Regions from separate parts of the Homo sapiens genome. Here region 1 is linked to region 2. Evidence: fine-mapped QTL for protein levels in blood plasma. Region 2 holds a variant in brackets. A gene starts in the other region. All regions are shown on their reverse strands.

Region 1 (2,901 bases), not on the chromosome of region 2:
CAAAATCAAAATCCGCTGAGTGTGGTGGCTCACACCTCTAGTCCCAGCTACTTGGGAGTCTGAGGTGGGAGGATTGCTTGAGCTCAGGAGTTCGAGACCAGCCTGGGCAACACGGCAAGACAGTGTCTTTACCACCACCAAAAAAGTAATTAACTTCAAACTGTTTTTAAAAAAGAAAACGTATTTCCCATTAAAATTACTTCCATGATGACCAACAAAACACAACCAAACTCCAGATTTATAATGCAAAAATCCCCCAAACAAAATAGTCAAGGAAAAGTGTAAGTGAACAGAAACAGTGTGAATGCGTGTGCCTGGCCACAACAGTTGGCAAAGGCACAAGTGTCTGCAGGTGCGGAGGAGGCCGCAGTAGCTCGGGGTGGCTGAGGGCTAAGACGTGCTGTCAGCCATAGGGAAGGAATTCCAGGACACTGCCTGAAGAGTCAGGTCCTCCCACCCGGGAGCCTGTTTCCCACGCGTGCCAGCTACACTTTACAAAAGAAAAGAGAGACTTTGCACCAACCTAGCTGAGAGCAGCCACGCAGCAAAACGTGAGTCACTCAGTGCTCAATGCCTGGGGTCAAAAAATAGAGGAAAGAAGAAGGACTAAAAGCAAATTAGTTTATGTATCATTTGCAAAAGTTTTCAAAATGTGCTTTGCTCTCCATCTGTCATACTTCTGCAGGTGACAGACGAGTGAGGACATTTAGAGAAACTCAGGAACAAACCAGGCCCATCCACTGGCGTCGAGGCTAGTTTCGAAGACAGAAAAACGCCCCACTTCTGTTTGCACTGTGGCTGCCTGTGGCCCGGCCGGGGAGGCGGCCGGGAGTGAGGCCTGATCGTCCCTGGCGCCTCCACCTCCCCAGGCGCAGAAGGCGCCCACGAGGACCCCCAGTGCCCGACGTTGCCACGGTCTGGGATCAGAGGCAGGGACCAGGGAGCCAGGAACTGCGCCGCCCCCGCCCCTGCCCTGGCGCGAGGGAAGCTCCCCTCACCCGGGCCCAGCCCTGCAGGGGGGCGCGTGGGGTCAGACCGCAAAGCGAAGGTGCGGGCCGGGGTGGGCCTCGCGGAGACAAAGGCCGGGCCTGCCTGCTCTCAGAGGGCCCCAGCGCCTGCCAAGAGGAAGTCCTCGAGGCCCGGGCAGGGAAGGGGGCACGGGCTTCCCAGGGCCCGCCGGCCGCAGCAGGAAGTTGGCCAGGGCACGGCCGTGAGCGGAGCGGGCAGGGCTTTCTCAGGAGCGCGGGCGAGGCCGGCGCTGGAGGGGCGAGGACCGGGTATAAGAAGCCTCGTGGCCTTGCCCGGGCAGCCGCAGGTTCCCCGCGCGCCCCGAGCCCCCGCGCCATGAAGCTCGCCGCCCTCCTGGGGCTCTGCGTGGCCCTGTCCTGCAGCTCCGGTGAGCGCCCCGGGCTCCTGGCGCGCACGGTGGGGCCTGAGGCCTCGGCGCCCGCTGCGCCCCCGCCGCTGCCTGCGCCGATCGTGGATCCCAGGTCCTTCCAGCCTCGCCCGGCGCCCAGAGGGCTCCGCCACCCCGGGGCCCCGCGCCTGCAGCCCGCGGCCTCCCCCTCTCAGGGCTGTCTCCAGCCTCGTGCCGGGATGGAGGCCGCCCCTGGCCTGGGGACACCCGTCTGCCCCCCGTCTGGAGACCGGCTCCTCATCCTGCAAGGCGCAGCGCGAGTGTCCCCTCCCTTGGGGGCCTGTCCCGGACCCTGCACAGAGTTCACCGGTCCTTCCGCCACCCTCAGGCCACTCCGGTGACCCTGCAGCGTCTCCTGGCGGGGCCGCCTCCCCAGACCCGCCTGTGTCCCGGGGGCTCGCACCTGGCAGGCCTCGGCGCAGGAGGGAGGGGCGGTCGGGGAGCCGGGCAGGGCGCGACGGTTCCTGGGCGCCTCCCGCGGGGGCGCGTCCTGGACCTGCCTTCTGGGGACCCCGGCGCGCAGGCGGTGACCCCTCCCTGTTCGCTTGCAGCTGCTGCTTTCTTAGTGGGCTCGGCCAAGCCTGTGGCCCAGCCTGTCGCTGCGCTGGAGTCGGCGGCGGAGGCCGGGGCCGGGACCCTGGCCAACCCCCTCGGCACCCTCAACCCGCTGAAGCTCCTGCTGAGCAGCCTGGGCATCCCCGTGAACCACCTCATAGAGGGCTCCCAGAAGTGTGTGGCTGAGCTGGGTCCCCAGGCCGTGGGGGCCGTGAAGGCCCTGAAGGCCCTGCTGGTAAAGTGGGCACCCCGGGTGCCCTTCCTGCGCGGGCATCCCTTCCCGGCCAGCCTCAAAACTGCACCAGAGGTGTCCCGGCCCTACGTCAGGGCTGTTTCCCGTCCTGCCCCTCCAAGCCCTGTCCCTGGGAGAAGCCCGGGTCTCCGGGTGGGAACTGGGTGGGGCGCATCCGAGCTGCAGGGGCGGGGAAGGCGGAGATGGCCCCGCGCGGGTGCGCGTCCCCCGGAGACGCCAGCGGAACCGCCCCGCTCCCGCTCCCCACAGAGCCGGCCGCTGCCGCGCCCCCGCCTGAGTTCTTGGTGGCAGGGCTGGGGGCACTCAAGCTCGGCTTCTGCTTTCCAGGGGGCCCTGACAGTGTTTGGCTGAGCCGAGACTGGAGCATCTACACCTGAGGACAAGACGCTGCCCACCCGCGAGGGCTGAAAACCCCGCCGCGGGGAGGACCGTCCATCCCCTTCCCCCGGCCCCTCTCAATAAACGTGGTTAAGAGCAGCTCGAGCCTGGTATTTTCTCATCCAAATGCTGATCCCTGTGGGGGACCGAGAGTGCCAAGTCCCAGATTTTGTGAGGGGTGCTGCGTGAGAGAGGGAGAGAGAGGCCGCGAGAGTCTGCAGGTGGCATAGAGCCAGCAGTGCAAGGTGACAGAGATGGGGCCAGTATCAGAGGTAAACCGGATTTGGAAACAAAACTG
Region 2 (2,901 bases):
AGTAAGAGTCACATCAGCTGCACATGTGGGAAAAGCATGGAGAGTTTATTTTAAAAAAATATAGGCCAGGTTTCAGCAACGGTGATGGGAATTTCCTGGGGAGTACTACACGGCTAGGATCAGGGAGACTGAGATCTAAAGGATGCTTCTGGAGAACAGGAATGCCATGATTAACTGGTGCTTTATGAAGATTCATCTGGCAGCACTGAGCATTCTGGACTAGCAAGAAGTGGGCTACAACCACTCCTCAAAACCATGAAAGCTGATACTTCAGTACAAGTGAGAGGCTATGAGGATCTAGAAGTAGAGAAGGACCGAGGTAGAAAGCAAAAGAGACTAGCCACTGGGGAAGACTCAAAGATGAATCAGCTTTGGGCCCAGATCTCTGGGATAAATAGTGGTGGTACCACCAAAAGATGTGAAGAACACAGGAGGGGGTTTTAGAGAAAGATGAACACGGCCGATTTTAGAAACTCTTGGTTTGAGATTATGATAAATGAACCAAGTACAGATACCCAGGAGATGGCTGGATATACAGAACTGACAAGATCTCAAGGGTACCTCGAACTAAAAATGTCCAGAACTAAATGCAGTTCTCTCTCCAAACTACATTATTCTCCAAAGTTCCCTATCTCAGTGGCTGGTTACGAAAGCTAGAAACCTAGAAGTCACCCCTGGCATCCCCTTCTCTGCTATCCTTAAGCCAGTCTCCTATGTCTACCTCTTAAATCAGTCTCAACTCTGCTAACCACTCCAATTCTACCAGCAACTTCTCTGGGCCACTGCCGTGGTTGCAGTGGTCTCAAAATCTACGATCATTCCCCCTAGAGTAGCCAGGGTGATCTTTTAGAAGAGCACATCTGATGTTATCATTCCTTGGCTCACACCACTTTGAAAGTGGTGTGAAAAGCTTCAAAAGCTTCTCATTGCTGAACTCTAAAAACCCAAATCCTGACCAGGCATGGTGGCTCACGCCTGTAATACCAGCACTTTGGGAGGCCGAGGTTGGTGGATCACCTGAGGTCAGTTCAAGACCAGCCTGGCCAACATGGTGAAACCCCGTCTCTACTAAAAATACAAAAATCAGCTGGGCGTGGTGGCAGGTGCCTGTAATCCCAGCTACTCGGGAGGCTGAGGCAAGAGAATTGCTTGAACACGGGAGGCGGAGGTTGCAGTGAGCCGAGATCACACCATTGCCCTCTAGCCGGGGGACAAGAGCGAGACTTCATCTCAAAAATAATAATAATAATCATCATCATCATCATCATCATCATCCTGGGGAAGGCAATGGGGAGATGTTGGTCAAAGGAGACAAAATTTCAGTTAATAGGAGGAGTAAGTTCCAGAGATCTACTGTACAACAAAGTGACTACAACTAACAACTATTGTGTACTAGAAAATTGCTGAGAGTAAATTCTAAATGTTCTGACCACACAAAATATGTATGTGAGGCCATGCTTATGTTAAGTAGCTTGATTGACTCATTCTACAATGTGTATG[T/C]ATTTCAAAACACGTTGCACACGATATATACAATTTTTGTCAATTAAAAAATAAATTAAAGGGCTGGGCATGGTGGCTTATGCCTGCAATCCCAGCACTTTGGGAGGCGGAGGCAGGCGGATCGCTTGAGCCAAGGAGTTTGAGACCAGCCTGGGCAACACAGCAAGACCCTATCTCTACAAAAAATACAAAAATTAGCTGGCCATGGTAGTGTGCAGCTATAGTCCTAGCTACTCAGGAAGTTGAGGTGGGAGGACTGCTTGAGCTCAGGAGGTCATGGCTGCAGTGAGCTATGATTGCACCACTGCACTCCAGCCTGGGCAACAGCGAGACCCTGTCTCAAATCAATCAATCCAATGAATAAATGAAAAAATAAAAACCCCAAATCCTGAACAGGGTGGGCAAGGCCGAGGACATCTGGCCACCATCTACCTCTCTCACCTCATCTCTTGCCATTCTCCCCCAACTCAGCCATACTGTCATTTTTCATGCTTCCTTTGGTCTCAGGTCCTCTCATATGCTGTTCTCTCAGCTTCTTCTCACCTCCCCAGCCCCTGACTCACATCTAGGGAACTTATATGTATTCTTCAGACCCCAGGTCAAGCATTTTCTCAGGACAATTTCCCAGGCTCCTCAAACTGTTGTGCCCCTGTACTACTCCCACGCAACACTGATCACAGCTTGTTATTATATATTGGCGTGACTATCAGAAGAATGTTTATCAATCCCATGAGAACTATAAGCTTCGTGAGGGAGAAACTGTTTGCGGTGCTCACCATCATATCCTAGCACCTGGCATAGTGCTTAACACATACTGGACTCTCAGATACTCAATGAATACAGAATGAAAGATTGGAACTGGAGCTAGAGAATTGGAAAGCAACTGACAATGGAGAAAAAAGAGGGTGAGGACAGAACTCTGGGGAAAATAATATTTAGGAGGTAGGAAAGAAAAAATGAGCCGCATAGAAGGCAAGAGGCAGAAATGAGAGGAGAGCCAGGAATGTATAGGGAAAAGGATAAAGGAAGGAGCAGTCAACAGAATCAATCCCTGCATAGAAATTTAAAAGTCAAGAACTCAACCAAGGCCACTGGAATTGAGCAGTAAAGTAGTTTCAATAGGGAACAGAAGCCAGACCACAAGAAGTAAGGAGTCAATAGTACGGAAGTGGAAGCAGCATGTGTGGACTAATTTTTAAAGAAGTTTGTGCAATAAGGGGAAGAAAGAGGATGATAGTATCAGTGGTAGCAGGAATACAAGAAGGTGTTTTCAAATAAAGATACTTGGGCAAGGCTGGGTGCAGTGGCTCGCGCCTGTAATCCCAGCACTTTGGGAGGCGGAGGTGGGCAGATTACTTGAGGTCAGGAGTCCGAGACCAGCCTGGCCAACATAATGAAACA

Direction of the effects. Positions count from the first base shown, and alleles are read on the strand shown. Strength reflects both the effect of a copy and how common the allele is.
With allele T in place of C in region 2, the plasma level of the protein whose gene starts at base 1,308 in region 1 is lower (strong association).

The links. PIP is the posterior inclusion probability: the model's chance that the variant is causal. Protein levels are from antibody-based Olink assays in UK Biobank. Linkage for the fine-mapping came from a reference panel and not from the study's own genotypes, which makes the PIPs less certain.
Region 1: it holds the start of SCGB3A1, and the variant in region 2 is fine-mapped to the plasma level of the SCGB3A1 protein (UK Biobank, PIP above 0.99).

The regions. Positions count from the first base shown.
Region 1 is chr5:180,589,906-180,592,806 of GRCh38, reverse strand. It overlaps SCGB3A1 (secretoglobin family 3A member 1), which reads left to right and starts at 1,308. Exons shown (of 3, transcript NM_052863.3): 1 at 1,308-1,396; 2 at 1,969-2,207; 3 at 2,553-2,702. The coding sequence starts at 1,345. The coding sequence ends at 2,576. RefSeq lists enhancers at 1,107-1,776, 1,777-2,446, 2,447-2,901.
Region 2 is chrX:150,607,179-150,610,079 of GRCh38, reverse strand. All of the region lies in intron 4 of MTM1 (myotubularin 1), which reads right to left. Among named protein-coding and RNA genes, the nearest start is that of MTM1, 40 kb to the right of the region's middle. The variant T/C (reference allele first, on the strand shown) is at 1,501.